2 separate regions of the Homo sapiens genome follow, and region 1 is linked to region 2. A link means that fine-mapping ties the variant in region 2 to the expression of a gene that starts in the linked region. Tissue or cell type: whole blood. Region 2 holds a variant in brackets; the other region holds the start of a gene. All regions are shown on one strand. Distances are between the middles of the regions.

Region 1 (7,230 bases), 73 kb before region 2:
TGCAGGATCCATGCTCTCCCTAAGGACCCTCAGTCATTTGATGTGTCTCTCCACATAGACCACAAGGGTCCCCAAAATGTGCATTATGTATTAGATTTTTTCGTATTTCCTTAGCCTGGGACTTGATATATGCTGGACGCTCGATAAATCTTGTTGATAGAGACCGTCTTCTGATGCCTCTGAATGGAATACCAGTCTGAAGGCTAAATGCCATCAGCAGTTTTAACACTGACAGCACAGTCTGCTAGAATACCAATTTACCACAAAAATAAATACATCCCCTGGAGGCCTGCTTGGTGAAATTAATCAATGGCTTGGAGAATTTGAAACACATACAAATTCCAAGTAATAAGCTGGTGATCTTCAAGTCTGCAATGAACTGGGGATGTCTCACCTCCCCAGCTCTCCATCCAGGACCATCTGGGCTCCCTCCCCTCTTCTGTCCTGTACTCTGTGCAGGCACATCATTTTTCTAGCACCACTTGCCCCTCCTCCCACGCCCTCCCCAGGAGTGGGGAAAGGGGAGGTTTGGAACATCCTTTCTCTCTCATACCCATCAACCACAGCCTTGCTTTCCAGCTCTTCCAAACATTACCTCTTCAAGACCTCCTCTGCGGATCCCACCCAGAACCAGACTCACAGGAGATTCACGGCACAGACACCAGACCCTCACTGACATCCACCCACTCTTTTTTTCCGGGCAGGTTCTCCTTCCTCTGTGCCGAGGCCTGTTCCACTCAGGCTACTGAGCCAGGAGGCAGGCTTGGTGGGCTAGACACAGTCAGCATTTAATAACAAAGGTGTAATAATAATACAAACAAATATACTATTAAGATGAACCTAACGGTTGGAGTTTGCCAAGCCATCCTGTGACTGCAAATCCCTTTTCAATTAATCTTCATCAGTTACCAAATGAGGGTAGACTAGAATGATCTCTAGATATAGAGATATAGAGATCCTGGGCATCTCTATGCTTCCGTGAGTCTGTGAATGTTGCCTAAGGAGAATAAATGTGAGCTCCTTAGGCTATGAGAATAATAAGAGGGAGAGTATGGGCTCTTTGATATCAGAATAAGACAGAATACAGGCTGGGCACGGAGGCTCATGCCTGTAATCCCAGCAATTTGGAAGGCTGAGGTGGGAGGATCACCTGAGGTCAGGAGTTCAAGACCAACCTGGCCAACATGGTGAAACCCAGTCTCTACAAAAATACAAAAATTACCCGGGCATGATGGCAGGTGCCTGTAATCCCAGCTATTCAGGAGGTTGAGGCAGGAGAATCACTTGAACCCTGGAGGCAGAGGTTGCAGTGAGCCGAGGTTGTGCCATTGCACTCCAGCCTGGGCAACAGAGCAAGACTCCGTCTCAAAAAAAAATAATAATAATAATAATAAGACAGAAAAGAAAGAGAAGAGGAAGCGAAACGCTGAAAGGCTATCAGTTAGCTGGGCTGGGTGCAGTGGCTCACGCCTGTAATCCCAGCACTTTGGGAGGCTAAGGTGGGTGGATCACCCGAGTTCAGGAGTTCAAGACCAGCCTGGCCAACATGGTGAAAACCCGTCTCTACTAAAAATAGCCGGGAGTGGTGGCACACACCTGTAGTCCCACCTACTCGGGAGGCTGAGGTAGAAGAATCCTTGAACCTGGGGGACGGAGGTTGCAGCGAGTCAAGGTCGCACCACTGCACTCCAGACTGGGCAGAGCAAGACTCCGTCTCAAAAAAAAAAAAAAGGCCAGGCACGGTGGCTCATGCCTGTAATCCCAATACTTTGTAAGGCCGAGGAGGGTGGGTCACTGGAGGTTGCGGTGAGCCAAGATCGCGCCACTGCATTCCAGCCTGGGCAATAAGAGCGAAACTCCATCTCAAAAAAAAAAAAAAAAGCTATCAGGACTAGAGGAAGAGCGAAAAGTGAAAGGGCGGCCAGGAGCAGAGGCTCACGCCTATAAGCCCAGCACTGTGGGAGCCCAAGGCAGGTGGATCACTTGAGGTCAGGAGTTCAAGACCAGCCTGACCAATATGATGAAATCCCATCTCTACTAAAAACACAAAAATTAGCTGGGCATGGTGGCATGCGCCTGTAATCCCAGCTACTCAGGAGGCTGAGACAGGAAAATCGTTTGAACCTAGGAGGCAGAGGTTGCAATAAGCCGAGATCTCGCCACTGCACTCCAGCCTGGGCAACAGAGCCAGACAGTCTCATAAAAAAAAAAAAGGAAAAAAAGAAAAGAATGTACGGGGGAAGGCACAGGCTTGAACTCATACTGGGTGCCCTACCAGTGAAGTCGGCTTATCTCTAAAGCATCCTTTTAATCTCTCTAATGGAAGGATTATGTGTCCGAAACTTACCCCAAACCCACTTTCCAGTGTTTAGGGAACATCTGGCCTGATGTAGGCTTTCAATTCAGATGAGAGATTCACAGCCAACTTTCTGGGGGCCCTGGGGTTACGGGGCTAGGAAGGCAGGCATGACTGTAAGGTCTGAGGAGAAAACTAAGGGACGGAGTTGAGGAAAAAGAAATAGGTCCTTTATAGTCCTGGCTCGCTGGTAGCTCCCTCTCTCTCTCTCTCTGTAGTTCCTCAACGCCTATGTCTTTGGGACTCACCTTTTCTCCAAAGTCCTAAAATCTTCTTTCAAGTTCCCCATAGGCTCTATTGTTCCCCCAAAGGGCTCCTCAGATCCAGATCCTCCTCCTCACACACACCCACAGTCTCCCATTTAATCATCTGTATTCTCAAAACATTTATTGAGTGCCTACCAGACACTGTGTGAATACGTATCTAAGACAAAAATTCCTGCCTTCGAGGAGTTGTTAGTGGGTGCAACAGACAACTACACAGATTGGGTTGCAGTGAGGGCAAAAGGGGAAAGTCTTAGGTTTTTTTCCCCCAAGATGAGTCATCTGGAGCTTTTCAGTTCCTCAAACTCGTTCTTAGCTTCTCAGCCGGCAGGCCTCTGCCTCTGTAGTTTCCTGAGTGGGCCCCTCTCTTTCCACTTCTCTTCATCCGGCTAACTCCTAATGCCTCTTCGTGCTTCCTGTATGAAGCCCTCTTTGACTCCCCTCTGCACACAGCCTTCGCCCACCCCCTCCCCCACTCCAGGCTAGACCAGATGCTCCTCGTCCGGCCCCCAAAAGGAAGCTCTGTACCTCCCCTATCATGGCATCTACTACTCTGAATTATCATTGCTTGTTTCTACCAATGTGTGAACTCCAGGGGTACCGGGACCAGATCTCTCGTCCGCCGCAGCGTCCCGGCGCAAGCCTGTTCAAGGAAGGAAGACACCCTGCAGAGCTCGGAACCTTGCAACCCCCGACGCTGCTCCGCAAGCACCACCGCTGGAGCCAGCCCCTCCGGCAGGATACGCCCCACGGGCCCCGCCTCCTCACCTTCGCATTTGCTGGGCAGGCGAACCCAGTCGTTCTCCTCAGCTCCGGCCTGGCTCGGGCCCAGCTCCGGGGCCGGCAGCAGCAGCAGCAGCAGCAGCAGCAAGGGAAGAAGCAGAAGACAGCGGGACGCGGGCTCAGGCATTGAATCCATGGCCCGGCCGGGCCCGGACCCTAAAGGACCGGGCGGTTCCTCCTCCCGCGGCGCGCGCGGAGCAGTTTCCCCTCGCCGCTTCCGGGACTGCACACGTGCCTCCGAGCAACCACGACAACAGCTAGCCTCCCGCCCGCCCTCCTCTCGCAGCCGCAGCCCGCCTTCAAAGCGGACCAAGGCCCGCGGACGGCGCAGCCAATAGGCTTTCTGGGGTTTGCTCTCTAGCTAATGGGAAGACTATCTTTTTACGCCCTTGGCCAGTAAGAGAGCAGATGGTGGCCTCAGCGACCTATGGCAAAGTCCTTTCCCACCCCCTAACGGAGGCTCTGGGAGAGAGAGGATGCAGGACCAAGACCCGAGAAGAAGCCTGCGTCTGGGCCTGGGTGGGACGGATTCAGGCGCGCAGGTGCTGGAAGATGTGGGGAAGGCCGTCTTCGCGGCTTTCTCCGCCTCCTCGAACGTCACTTCCCTCCTGGGGTCCTAATGCCGCAAGTCCTTACTGAACATCTGTTTTTAAATTTTATTATTGGTATTGTGGTTGTTATAGCCGGGCACTCTTGTAGGCGCTTAAGGTGCAAGCAGGACGACTCAAACTGTCCCCAGCCTTCACACTTTTTTAGTAGCCAGTAGATTTGTCCTAGTGAGAACTAGAACAAATGACTTCCTCTCTGAGCCTGTTTCTATTTGTATGACGACAAAGTGATCCTCCTAGCTGCTGTGGGAGCTTGCCTGTTGTTGGGAAGCTCAAATAGGTTAATAGAATTAAAGCTTATCGAGCAGATTGTAAAAAGTTCAGGCATTAATTTTCTTTTTGTATGTAATCCCAGCCCCTTTTACTGCCCTATTATTTATTTCTTGATTCTGAGCTCTCAGAAGGCAGAAATTTAGCCGATTAACGATTGTCTCTCCCTTCCGCTTCCCCAGCAACAACAGGGTGCCTGGCACAAGGAGATACTCAGTAAAACTCTCATCTGCTGTGTCATTAAGGGGAACACTTAATGGCTCACGCCTGTAATCCCAGCACTTTGGGAGGCCGAGGCGGAAGGATCACCTGAGCCCAGGAGTTGGAGACCAGCCTGGGCAACAGATTGAGACCCTGTCTCAACAAAGAAGAAGAAGAAGAAAAAGGCCAGGCGCCGTGGCTAATGTCTGTAATCCCAGCACTTTGGGAGGCCAAGAAGGGAGAACTGCTTGAGGCCAGGAGTTCGAGACCAGCCTGGTCAACATAGCGAGACACCCCCCCCATCTCAAAAATAAATAAATCAAAATAAAAAATAAAGAGGAGGCCGGGCTTGGTGGCTCACGCCTATAATTCCAGCACTTTGGAAGGCCGAGGTAGGTGGATCACGAGGTCAGGAGTTCAAGACCAGCCTGGCCAAGATGCTGAAACCCCATCTCTACTAAAGATACAAAAAGTTAGCCGGGCGTGGTGGCACACGCCTGTAATCCCAGCTACTCGGGAGGTGGAGGCAGGAGAATTGCTTGAACCTGGGAGATGGAGGTTGCAGTGAGCCGAGATCACGCCATTGCACTCCAGCCTGGGCGACAGGGCAAGACTCCATCTCAAAAATAATAAATGCCGGGCGCGATGGTTCATGCCTGTATTTCCAGCACTTTGGGAGGCCAAGGCGGGCAGATCACAAGGTCAGGAATTCGAGACCAGCCTGGCCAATATGGTGAAACCCTGTCTCTACTAAAAATACAAAAAAAAATAGCCGTGGTGGTGGGTGCCTGTAGTCCCAGCTACTTGGGAGGCTGAGGCGGGAGAATTGCTTGAACCCTGGAGGTGGAGGTTGCAGTGAGCCGAGATCGCGCCACTGCACTCCAGCCTGGCGACAGAGCGAGACTCCGTCTCAAAAAATAAAAATAAACAAATAAAAATAAAGAGGAGCACTCTTGGTCTTCTTTAGGCTGCCCCTGAACTCAGTGTCCTACAGACGCACACAGACCAAAGTTGCTTCTCTGGGAAGTTGTCTGCAAATTGGCCATAAAACCCTGTTCCCTGATACCTTCTTGTTTCCTTCCTAGAGGTTGGATATTTATGCTATTTTATGAAGACTTCAGAGCACTGAGGCCCAGGCCTTGCCACTTTCTGACTTTAGTTTCTTGTCCAAAACTGTGTTGGTAACAAAGCACTTTGGATAGGCAGGGGCTGTGGCATGTGGAATTCCACAGTGTACAAGATCAGGACACCCTCCTAAGGTCCTCCATGTTTTCTAGGCTTGATAAGACTTAGGTTGGCTCAAGCTGGGCACAGTGGCTCACACTTATAATTCCAGCACTTCGGGAGGCCAAGGCAGGCGGATCACTTGAGGTCAGAAGTTCAAGACCAGCCTGGCCAATGTGGTGAAACCCTGTCTCTACCAAAAAATACAAAAATGAGCCAGGCATGGTGGCGTGTGCCTGTAGTCCCAGCTACTTGAGAGGCTGAGGTGGGAGAATTGCTGGAACCTGGGAGACAGAGATTGCAGAGAGTTGAGATCGCACCACTGCACTCCACCCTGGGGGACAGAGTGAGACCCTATCTCAAAAAATAAAATAATAAAATAAAATATAAAATAAAATAAAATAAAATACTTGGGTAGGCTCAGAGCTTGGCCATGGCCCTTGATTCACCTCGGCTCAGAAGCCCTCCTGGGAAATAAGATTAAGCCAGCCTGACAGTGGAGATTGAGAAGCCTGGGCTCAGCATCTGGCCGGACAGCTAGGAAGGGATAGTGGCCAGAGAAAGTCTGAGGCTATAGTTGGGCCCCTGCCCACACCCTCCCTCAGTCTGTGTGTCAGAGAAGGAACATGCCTTGTGGGGATGGTGGACAGATTCATCCGTAGAAGCTATGGGACCCTCCCACCCCAGCCACCAGCACCCAAGAATCCCCAAAACAAGTGGGAGAATCTCCTTTCAGGCTGGTGAGAGATGAGCAGTGGAGGAGGCAGTGAGAGTTTTTATGGAACAGTAGCTGAGAGAGCACAGAGGCTCAGGGGAGCTGAGGGTGTCCTTGAAACCATGTGTTGGGGTGCTGGGGCATAGTTCCCCATCCCCTCCCTGGGGGAAGGAAGACTAAAGTTGATCCAGCAGACTATCCTATGGGGCCCAAGGGACAGGTGGATTTACATGACAGCACCCAGAGTCTCTTGGAGTGATTACTAGCAGAGAACCCTTGGGAAAGTCTGGATTTCCTGCCAGCGCTGGGCAAGCAGGGGACGCACACGTTATGCTCTACTGTGGAAGCCTCATACTTGATCAATACAAGAATCTTCTTTATGTAACAACCAGACCAAAAAAGCCAAACCTCTTTAGTACCTGGCTCAGGGTTGATACTTAAAGAATATTTGTCAAATGAATAATGACTCTTAATTGATTAATAAACTGTAAGTTTGGAATTAATATCTCATACTCTTGTTATTGAAAACGATCCTGTTCCCCAGAAACCCTGGCCCTGTTCACCTCTGTACGAGAGTTCACATCAGACCCACCACCCACCTTCCTGGGTTCCTGGGCTCTCTGCCCTGACCTCTCACAGAGGTTGGGCCAGGGTGAGGAGAAGAGGGGGCCTCCCCGCTTGCTGTTGGGGGAGGAGACAGCCGCCTTCCCAGCCACCAGTCCCACTCTGCAGTTCCCAAGTTCTGTCTCAGGAAGCCCTCTTCCTCAAGGGAGCTTTCCTGGATTTTTCCTACTTCTAACTCTGCCAAAT
Region 2 (8,220 bases):
CGAGCAAGTTACTTAACCAAAGCCCTGGTTTCCTTATCCGTTAAACAAGAGAATAGTACTGACCCACCAAGTAAAGTACAGCAAATGTTCACTGCTGTTTTTGTAGTAGCAGCTAAGCGTAAGTTTTTCTACAGTGTGAAATATCTGTTACTTTTACATTATATTCTATAATTCCTTGACCTTTCTGTCTCTGATTTAGTGGCTGTGACCTGTAAAGTTTTAAAGAACAAATATCAGTAGCATGACTTTTACCATGGCATCTTCTAGGAGCAGGCATCTGTATTTGTTAAGCATAGCTTGGGTCCTTTTTAGGAGCTGAGTGGCAACTGTCTCAAATTCATTGTCCACTTTAAAAAGAGAGAGACAAAGAAATAGTGAGAGACTGTAAATCACTGACTAGGTCTTCTGTTTCTTAAGACTGAAATACATTACTCTTCTGTTATTCAAACATGGCTTATCTGGGGCAATTTTCTCTTCTTAGATGAGCTTTTCCCCGGCTAAGCATCATCCTTCTACACTGCATTCCCTCACTGTCCACTGGTCATGGAAACTCATTTTATTACTAACTCTTTTAACTTTAACTAGGAAACCAAAAACATAATTACTTTGATATCACCTATAAAATAAAACCATATAACAGACTCGCAATAAATATCAATGAGTAGGCCGGGCACGGTGGCTCATGCCTGTAATCCCAGCACTTTGGGAGGCCGAGGTGGGCGGATCACGAGGTCAGGAGATGGAGACCATCCTGGCTAACATGGTGAAACCCCATCTCTACTAAAAATACAAAAAAAAAATTAGCTGGGCGTGGTGGCGGGCACCTCTAGTCCCAGCTACTCGAGAGGCTGAGGCAGGAGAATGGCGTGAACCCAGAAGGCGGAGCTTGCAGTGAGCCAAGATCGTGCCACTGCACTCCAGCCTGGGCAACAGAATGAGACTCTGTCTCAAAAAAAAATATATATATATCAATGAGTAGAGAATGATCTGCTAGTTTAGATGACCTAAGCCTAATGGTATGAAAAACTAAAATAGCTGAAACAATGAAGTCCAACTGTCTGGACTAGGTAAACCAGTTTAATGTAAAGACACAGCTTTACATTAAACTGTCATGGTCATGTGGCTCTGTCCTCTGTCTGTTGGTCTCCAAGGATTTGAACACCTTCTAATTCATTCTTCTTCTCAGTCTTCACACCCACTGTGGGTTTTTTTTTTTTGAGACAGAGTCTTGCTCTGTCGCTCAGGCTGGAGTGCAGTGGCGCAATCTCAGCTCACTGCAACCTTCTCCTCCCGGGTTCAAGTGAGTCTCCTGCCTCAGCCTCCCGAGTAGCTGGGACTACAGGTGTGCACCACCATGCCCTTGCTAATTTTTTTGTATTTTTAGTAGAGATGGGGTTTCACCATGTTGGCCAGGATGGTCTCGAACTCCTGACCTCATGATCTGCCCACCTCGGCCTTCCAAAATGCTGGGCTTATAGGCGTGAAGAACCATGCCCAGCCCTTTCACACCCCCTGTTTAACGCTGGATCTTGACCCTATTCCTTGGTGTCCTAGGGAAGCCCACAGTGGACTCACAGAAACCACTGTGCCCTGAGATTAGAGGTCCCTGCCAGGAGGAGTAAGACTTGTAGCAGCTGAGGAAGGGATTAGAAAAGAGGAGGGCACTGATACAGCCAGGCCTTAGCGGTGGTGGTGGGAAAGAGCATGGCCAGGCATCAGGACAGAAGGAGTTCTAGGTTTGGGGAAGGGGCTCTTATCTCTAAATTATTATTTATTTATTTATTTATTTTTTAGATGGAGTTTCGCTCTTGTTGCCCAGGCTGGAGTGCAATGGCACGATCTCGGCTCATGGGAACCTCTGCCTCCCGGGTTCAAGTGATTCTCCTGCCTCAGCCTCCCGAGTAGCTGGAATTACAGGCATGTGCCACCACGCCTGGCTAATTTTGTATTTTTAGTAGACACAGGGTTTCTCCATGTTGGTCAGGCTGGTCTCGAACTCCTGACCTCAGGTGACCCACCCACCTCAGCTTCCCAAAGTGCTGGGATTACAGGTGTGAGACACTGCGCCCAGCCTTTTTTTTTTTTTTTTTTTTAAAACAGAGTCTTGCTCTGTTATCCAGGCTGGAGTGCAGTGGTGCGATGTCCGCTCACTGCAACCTCTGCCTTCCAGGTTCAAACGATTCTCCTGCCTCAGCCTCCCAAGTAGCTGGGACTGAAGGCGTGTGCCACCACGCCCAGCTAATTTTTGTATTTTTAGTAGAGACGGGGTTTCACCATGTTGGCCAGGCTGGTCTTGAACTCCTGACCTCAGGTGATCGGCCTGCCTCAGCCTCCCAAAGTGCTGGGATTACAGACGTGAGCCACTGTGCTCAGCCTTTATCTCTCACATTTTTGTCAGTTTCTTGATGTGTGGCCAATGCTCTGGACTCATTTTGGAATCTTAGGGAATGCTTTTGGGAGCTCAAGTGCCTAATTCATAAAACTATTAGAAACAGTTTGGCCAGGAGTGGTGGCTCATGCCTATAATCCCAGCACTTCCGGAGGCTGAGGCGGGCCAATCACCTGAGGTCAGGAGTTCAAGACCAGCCTGGCCAACATGGTGAAACCCCATCTCTACTAAAAAAATACAAAAATTAGCCAGCCGTGGTGGTGGGCGCCTATAATCTCAGCCACTGGGGAGGCTGAGGCAGGGAGAGTCACTTGAACCTGGGAGGCAGAGGTTGCAGTGAGTTGATCGTGCCACTGCACTCCAACCTGGGTGACAGAGCGAGACTCCATCTCAAAAAAAAAAAAAAAAAAAAAAAAATTCAGGGTATGCATATGGCCTAAAGGCAAGGACTATGCAAAACCACTGTGTAGAGTGTCTAGTGCAAAGCCATCCCATCTGGAGCCGGCAGTCCATACAAAGCTTTGGATTTACTGTCCCTAATTTGTCAATAAAATACTCTGACATTAGGGTACCCTCCTAAAAAATATATATATATATATATATATTTTTTTTTTTTTTTAAGAGACAGTGTCTCCCTATGTTGCCCAGGCAGGAGTGCAATGGCTATTTACAGGCGTGATCATAGCACACTATAGTCTCAAACTCCTGGGCTCACATGATCTTCTTGCTTTAGCCTTCTGAGTAGCTGGGACTACAGGTGTGTGCCCCTACTCTTGACTTCCCTTCAAAAAATACTGAGAAGTGTAAGTCACAACCTTAAACATGGACTGGGAAATTGAGTAAACAGGGAACAAGTTTGGTCTGTGATTAAAAACAATAACCTGCCTACCATCTGGGGGTGATGTGGCTCTTGCTTTTCTGGGGGGTGTCCATGGAGGGTTTCCTGGTATCAGAGTGGTGCCTTAGGGTCCCAGCCTGCTTACCTTTTCTCAAGTCTTCTTCAGTGGGCATGGAGCCCTGGCACACGTGGTAGGAGAGCAGTCTCTGTAC[C/T]GCATCACTTAGTGATCGGAAGTGACTTTTGTCTGGTGTCACAGTGTGGGCTTGGTCCCTCTGCAACTGCTGGAGAATGCTTTACAAGGGAAATGGTCAATGTCAATGTAAAGTCATGTTAGGAAATTAAATCTAGTCATATTTATTTGCATGCAAATAAAATAAGATATATAGGAATAATACGGCAGTTTTTTAGTTTTATATTTTTTATACCATAGTGGGTTTATAACTTAGTTTAACTAGCCCCACAGAGGACTCAAACTATGACCCTGACCTCAAAAGCACAGGTTCCCACCAATCATTTATGTGTTGGCACCCCTATAAACCTTGGCAGTGCCTGACCATTGGCCAACTAAGTTCATGCTAACATTTCTGTTCTAAACATGGGAGTTTACCAAACCACGCTTTTCCTCAGAGATTCTTTGTCTCTGAAAAGACAAAGAACTATTCTCCTTAAGAAGAAAAGAGCAAACAGTAGGCTGAAACTACATTCAATATATTTGAAATGTATACACTACCTGTAATCCTAGCACTTTGGGAGGCTGAGGTGGGTGGATCACCTGAGGTCAGGAGTTCAAGACCAGCCTGGCCAACATGGTGAAACTCTGTCTCTACAAAAATACAAAAATTAGCCAGGCGTGATGGCGGGTGCCTATAATCCCAGCTATTCCAGAGGCTGAGGTGGGAGAATCACTTGAGCCCAGAAGGCGGAGGCTGTAGTGAGCCGAGATCGTCCCACTGCACTCCAGCCTGGACGACAGAGCAAGACTCTGTCTCAAAAAAAAAAAAAAAAAAAAAAAAAAGGAAAAGAAAGTATAGAAAAAGATTTTCAAAGTATATATGTATATATTTTGAGACAGGGTCTTGCTCTGTCACCCAGGCTGGAGTGCAGTGGCGCAATCTCCAATTCACTGCAAGCTCCACCTCAGAACTCAAGCTATCCTCCCACCTCAGCCTCCCAAGTAGCTGGGACTACAGGCCCGTACCACCACGCCTGGCTAATTTTTGTATTTTTTGCAGAGCCATGTTGCCCAGGCTGGTCTCAAACTCCTGGGCTCAAGTGATCCTCCTGCCTTAAGACTCCCAAAGTGCTGAGATTACAGGAGTGAGTCACCATGCCTTGCCTCAAAGTACATTTTTAAAAAGGCTAATATACTCATTATTATAACCTGTTTTCTGTGGTATATTTATTGAAGGCTAGGGACCCAAAGAAGTGTTCAGAATTGATTTGTCATTTCCGAGAGTAACTCACAAAGCTCCTTTCGTTAGCTGTTTCGCAGCAGGCCTTTTTTGTCCTCCCGAATGACTCTCCACCTAAAGACAAAACAAACCTCTTATTATTCCCTTTTATAGAAAAAAGAATACAGTTATACATAAAGGTCACTATAGTTCACATATTTTCAACTACCTATCAAGAACATATTCTAAGACTACAGAATGTGCCCTGCTGAAAAATAAAAAAAAAAAAACCAGTACACAGAGTCCATGAAACAAAGTTGTACTGTGTTAAGATTACAGAAAGGTGTATAATCGGTTCCTGAGAGGGACTCAGTTTGCACTTTAAAGCCTGAATGCCTACCTCCTCTCTAAATGCACCATCATCATCATCATCATCATCATCATGTTTTTTGACAGGGTCGTGCTCTGTCGTCCAGGCTGGAGTGTGGTGGTACAATCTCGGCTCACTGCAACCTCTGCTTCCCAGGCTCAAGTGATCCTCCCACCTCAGCCTCCCAGGTAGCTGGGACTACAGGTATGCACCACCACGCCTGTTAATTTTTTGGTATTTTTTGTAGAGACGGAGTTTTGCCATATTTTCCAGGCTTGTCTCGAACTCCTGGACTCAAGCCATCCGCCTGCCTTGGCCTCCCAAAGTGTTGGGATTACAGGTGTGAGCCACAGCACTGACCCATCGTTATATTTTTGAAATTCCACAGACATCTGAAAAGTCAGTAGATACTATCTAATCCATCTTCTCAGTGTAAGTATGGGATACACACTTTTAAGCTCCTGTTATATATAGTCCAGGTGTGTGATCTAACGAGGCATTTTTTACATCATGTTAAGGAAACAAATAGGCCTTATCTCAGAACCTTAGAACTGAACAGATCCTTCACTGTGTATTCCAGGCAGTCCCACACTGCAGCAAGTTTCATTCAACCACTAATTGGTAGGTCTGATGGAAACGAAACTGTCTTAGTAAGCTGAAAACAAGAAATGTTTCCTTCCATTTTAGACTAGTAGTTTGAAATCTTTTAGGTTTAAAAGCCAAACTTGAAGTTATCAAATGTGCCCTGAAAATATGTACATCTATCATGTATCAAAAAAACAAACAAACAAAAAAAACTAGGCCAGGAGTGGTTGCTTAAGCCTGTAATTCTAGCACTTTGGTAGGCTGAGGTGGGAGAATTGCTTGAGCCCAGGAGTTTCAGACCAGCCTGGCCAACATGGCAAAACGTTTTCTCTTAAAAAAAATATAAAAATATTAGCCAGGCGTGGTGGTGCGTGCCTGTAGTCCCAGCTACTCAGGAAGCTGAGGTGGGAGGATCGCATGAGCCCAGGTGATCGAGGCTTCAGTGAGCTGTGATCACACCACTGCAGCACAGTCTGAGTGACAGGGTGAGACCCCAACTCAAAACAAAACAAAAACAAAAACAAAAACAAAACAAAAAACCCAGCTGGACTAGACAGGGCACAGTGGCTCACACCTGTAATCCAGGTACTTTGGGAGGCTGAGGTGGGTGGATGGCTTGGGCCCAGGAGTTTGAGACAGGTGTGAGCAACATGGCAAAATCCTATCTCTACAAAAAATACAAAAAAACAGCTGGGCATTGTCCTAGCTACCCAGAAGGCTGAGGCAGGAGGGTCACCTGAGCCTGGGAGGTCAAGGCTGCAGTAAGCTGTGATTGCACTACTGCATGCCAGCCTGGGTGACAGAGTGAGACCCTGTCTCAAACAAAAACCAAAAAGTTGGACTTTAAAAAGTGTCAAAGTTGGGTCAAAAGACCGTAGGGATGGCCTACTTCCTATACGCCTGGTTACTACTACAGAAAAACAAAAATCCCTCAGTATAACTAAGAAGAAGAGATTCGCTTTGATATAATAGTGAACGATATCACCTAGTAGTAAATGACATTTTTTGAGTGCCTAGTATGTACTAGCTGCTGGTATATTACTAATTCATGAGGAAATGATGGATTAATGAAGCACTGTAAACATGTCAGAAATAGAATAGACATTCATCTCAGAAACATAAACATAACAAGGCCCAGCCCACCAGGAAGGTCTTCAATGACCACCCTGTTGTGGGCACACAGGGGACTGGGTGGACTGTGCACACAAAGCTAGCCAGCAACCACAAAGATAGCACGACTACATTTTCATTCAATTATGCCGAACATTAGGAAGAGGCTATGCCAATAGTTTTCTACCTGCACAGCTGGATGGCCAGGAGATGATCCAACTACTTTTTCCTGCTGTGGTTGTGCGGTTCCTAAGGATGCGGATATAACTTTGCTTCCAGAATCCTGCCCTATTAGAATTAATACATGAGACAGTGTTCAAAAGAAACAGTAAATTGGGTCCATCATATAACCCTAGAACCCAATGGGTACAGACTGTTGAGCATTCTGAAACGGGTTTCTTTATCATGGCTGCTTGCTGTGAAGAAGGAGGGCAGGGTAGTGCATTTACTTACAAGCTCTAAAGGAAGAGGTTATTAAAGCCTATTTAAGTAATAAATAAGTAAATAGTAATAAATAGAAGCTCCAAATGCTATAGTTTCAAATTATTTATAGTCTGAAAAACAGGCCTCAAGCCAGTAATCTGTCAGCACTACAGAATCCCAAAATACAATTTAAGGAAAGGGAGGCCCAAAGAGGCAATTGACTGGGAATATTCAAGCTTTTTCTCTTTCTTGCCTTTTTTTTTTTAAGTACTAATTGGGTACTGCAGATGTTCAAAGCCTTAGAAAAAACGGAAGACATAGTCCATAATATTTTCAGTCTGGGTGGAGAATTCCAAACATGCATGTAGAGAGCAACATGGGGATAATTTCAAAGTCACAAGTACTGTAAAATACCTTTTCTTTTTTTTTTTTTTTTTTGAGACAAGGTCTTGTTCTGTCGCCCAGGCTGGAGTGCAGTGGCGCAATCATAGCTCACTGCAGCCTCGACCTCCCAGGCTCAGGTGATCCTCCTGCCTCAGCCTCCTGGGTAGCTAGGACAATGCCCAGCTAGTACAGACAGGGTTTCACCATGTTGGCCAGGCTGGTCTTGATCTCCTGACCTCATGATCTGCCCGCCTCGGCCTCCCAAAGTGCTGGGATTACAGGTGTGAGCCACCGTGCCCGGCCTCAATTTATTGTTTCTAAGAAGTATTTTTTTTCCACATAATTTAATGTGTCATAATTTAGATAGAAGTGCTTGTTTTTCTTTTTGGTAGTATAAAAAATGATAGTACATCTTACAATTGATGCTATCTTAGTGGGGTTTTTTTTTTTTTTTTTTGAGACAGAGTCTCGCCCTGTCACCCAGACTGGAATGCAGTGGTGTGATCTCAGCTCACTGCAAGCTCTGCCTCCCGGGTTCAAGCGATTCTCCTGCCTCAGCCTCCTGAGTAGCTGGGATTACGGGCGTGTGCCACCATGCCTGGCTAATTTTTGTATTTTTAGTAGAGATGGGGTTTCATCATGTTGGTCGGGCTGGTCTTGAACTCCTGATCTCAGGTGATCCACTCTCCTTGGCCTCCCAAAGTGCTGGCATTACAGGCGTGAGCCACCG

What was found. PIP is the estimated chance that this variant, and not a neighbour inherited with it, causes the effect.
Region 1: CNPY3 starts here. The variant in region 2 is fine-mapped to the expression of CNPY3 in whole blood (TOPMed, PIP above 0.99).

Annotation. Positions count from the first base shown.
Region 1 is chr6:42,925,879-42,933,108 of GRCh38, reverse strand. CNPY3 (canopy FGF signaling regulator 3) reads right to left here and starts at 3,629. Exons shown (of 6, transcript NM_006586.5): 1 at 3,388-3,629. The coding sequence starts at 3,538. It overlaps CNPY3-GNMT (CNPY3-GNMT readthrough), which reads right to left and starts at 3,629. Exons shown (of 5, transcript NR_134892.2): 1 at 3,388-3,629. RefSeq lists enhancers at 2,911-3,020, 3,331-3,590, 3,233-3,734, 4,041-4,090, 4,101-4,150 and 1 more.
Region 2 is chr6:42,852,389-42,860,608 of GRCh38, reverse strand. It overlaps BICRAL (BICRA like chromatin remodeling complex associated protein), which reads right to left. Exons shown (of 13, transcript NM_001393499.1): 8 at 6,871-6,971; 9 at 4,692-4,753; 10 at 3,373-3,518; 11 at 253-347. Among named protein-coding and RNA genes, the nearest start is that of RPL7L1, 23 kb to the left of the region's middle. The variant C/T (reference allele first, on the strand shown) is at 3,440.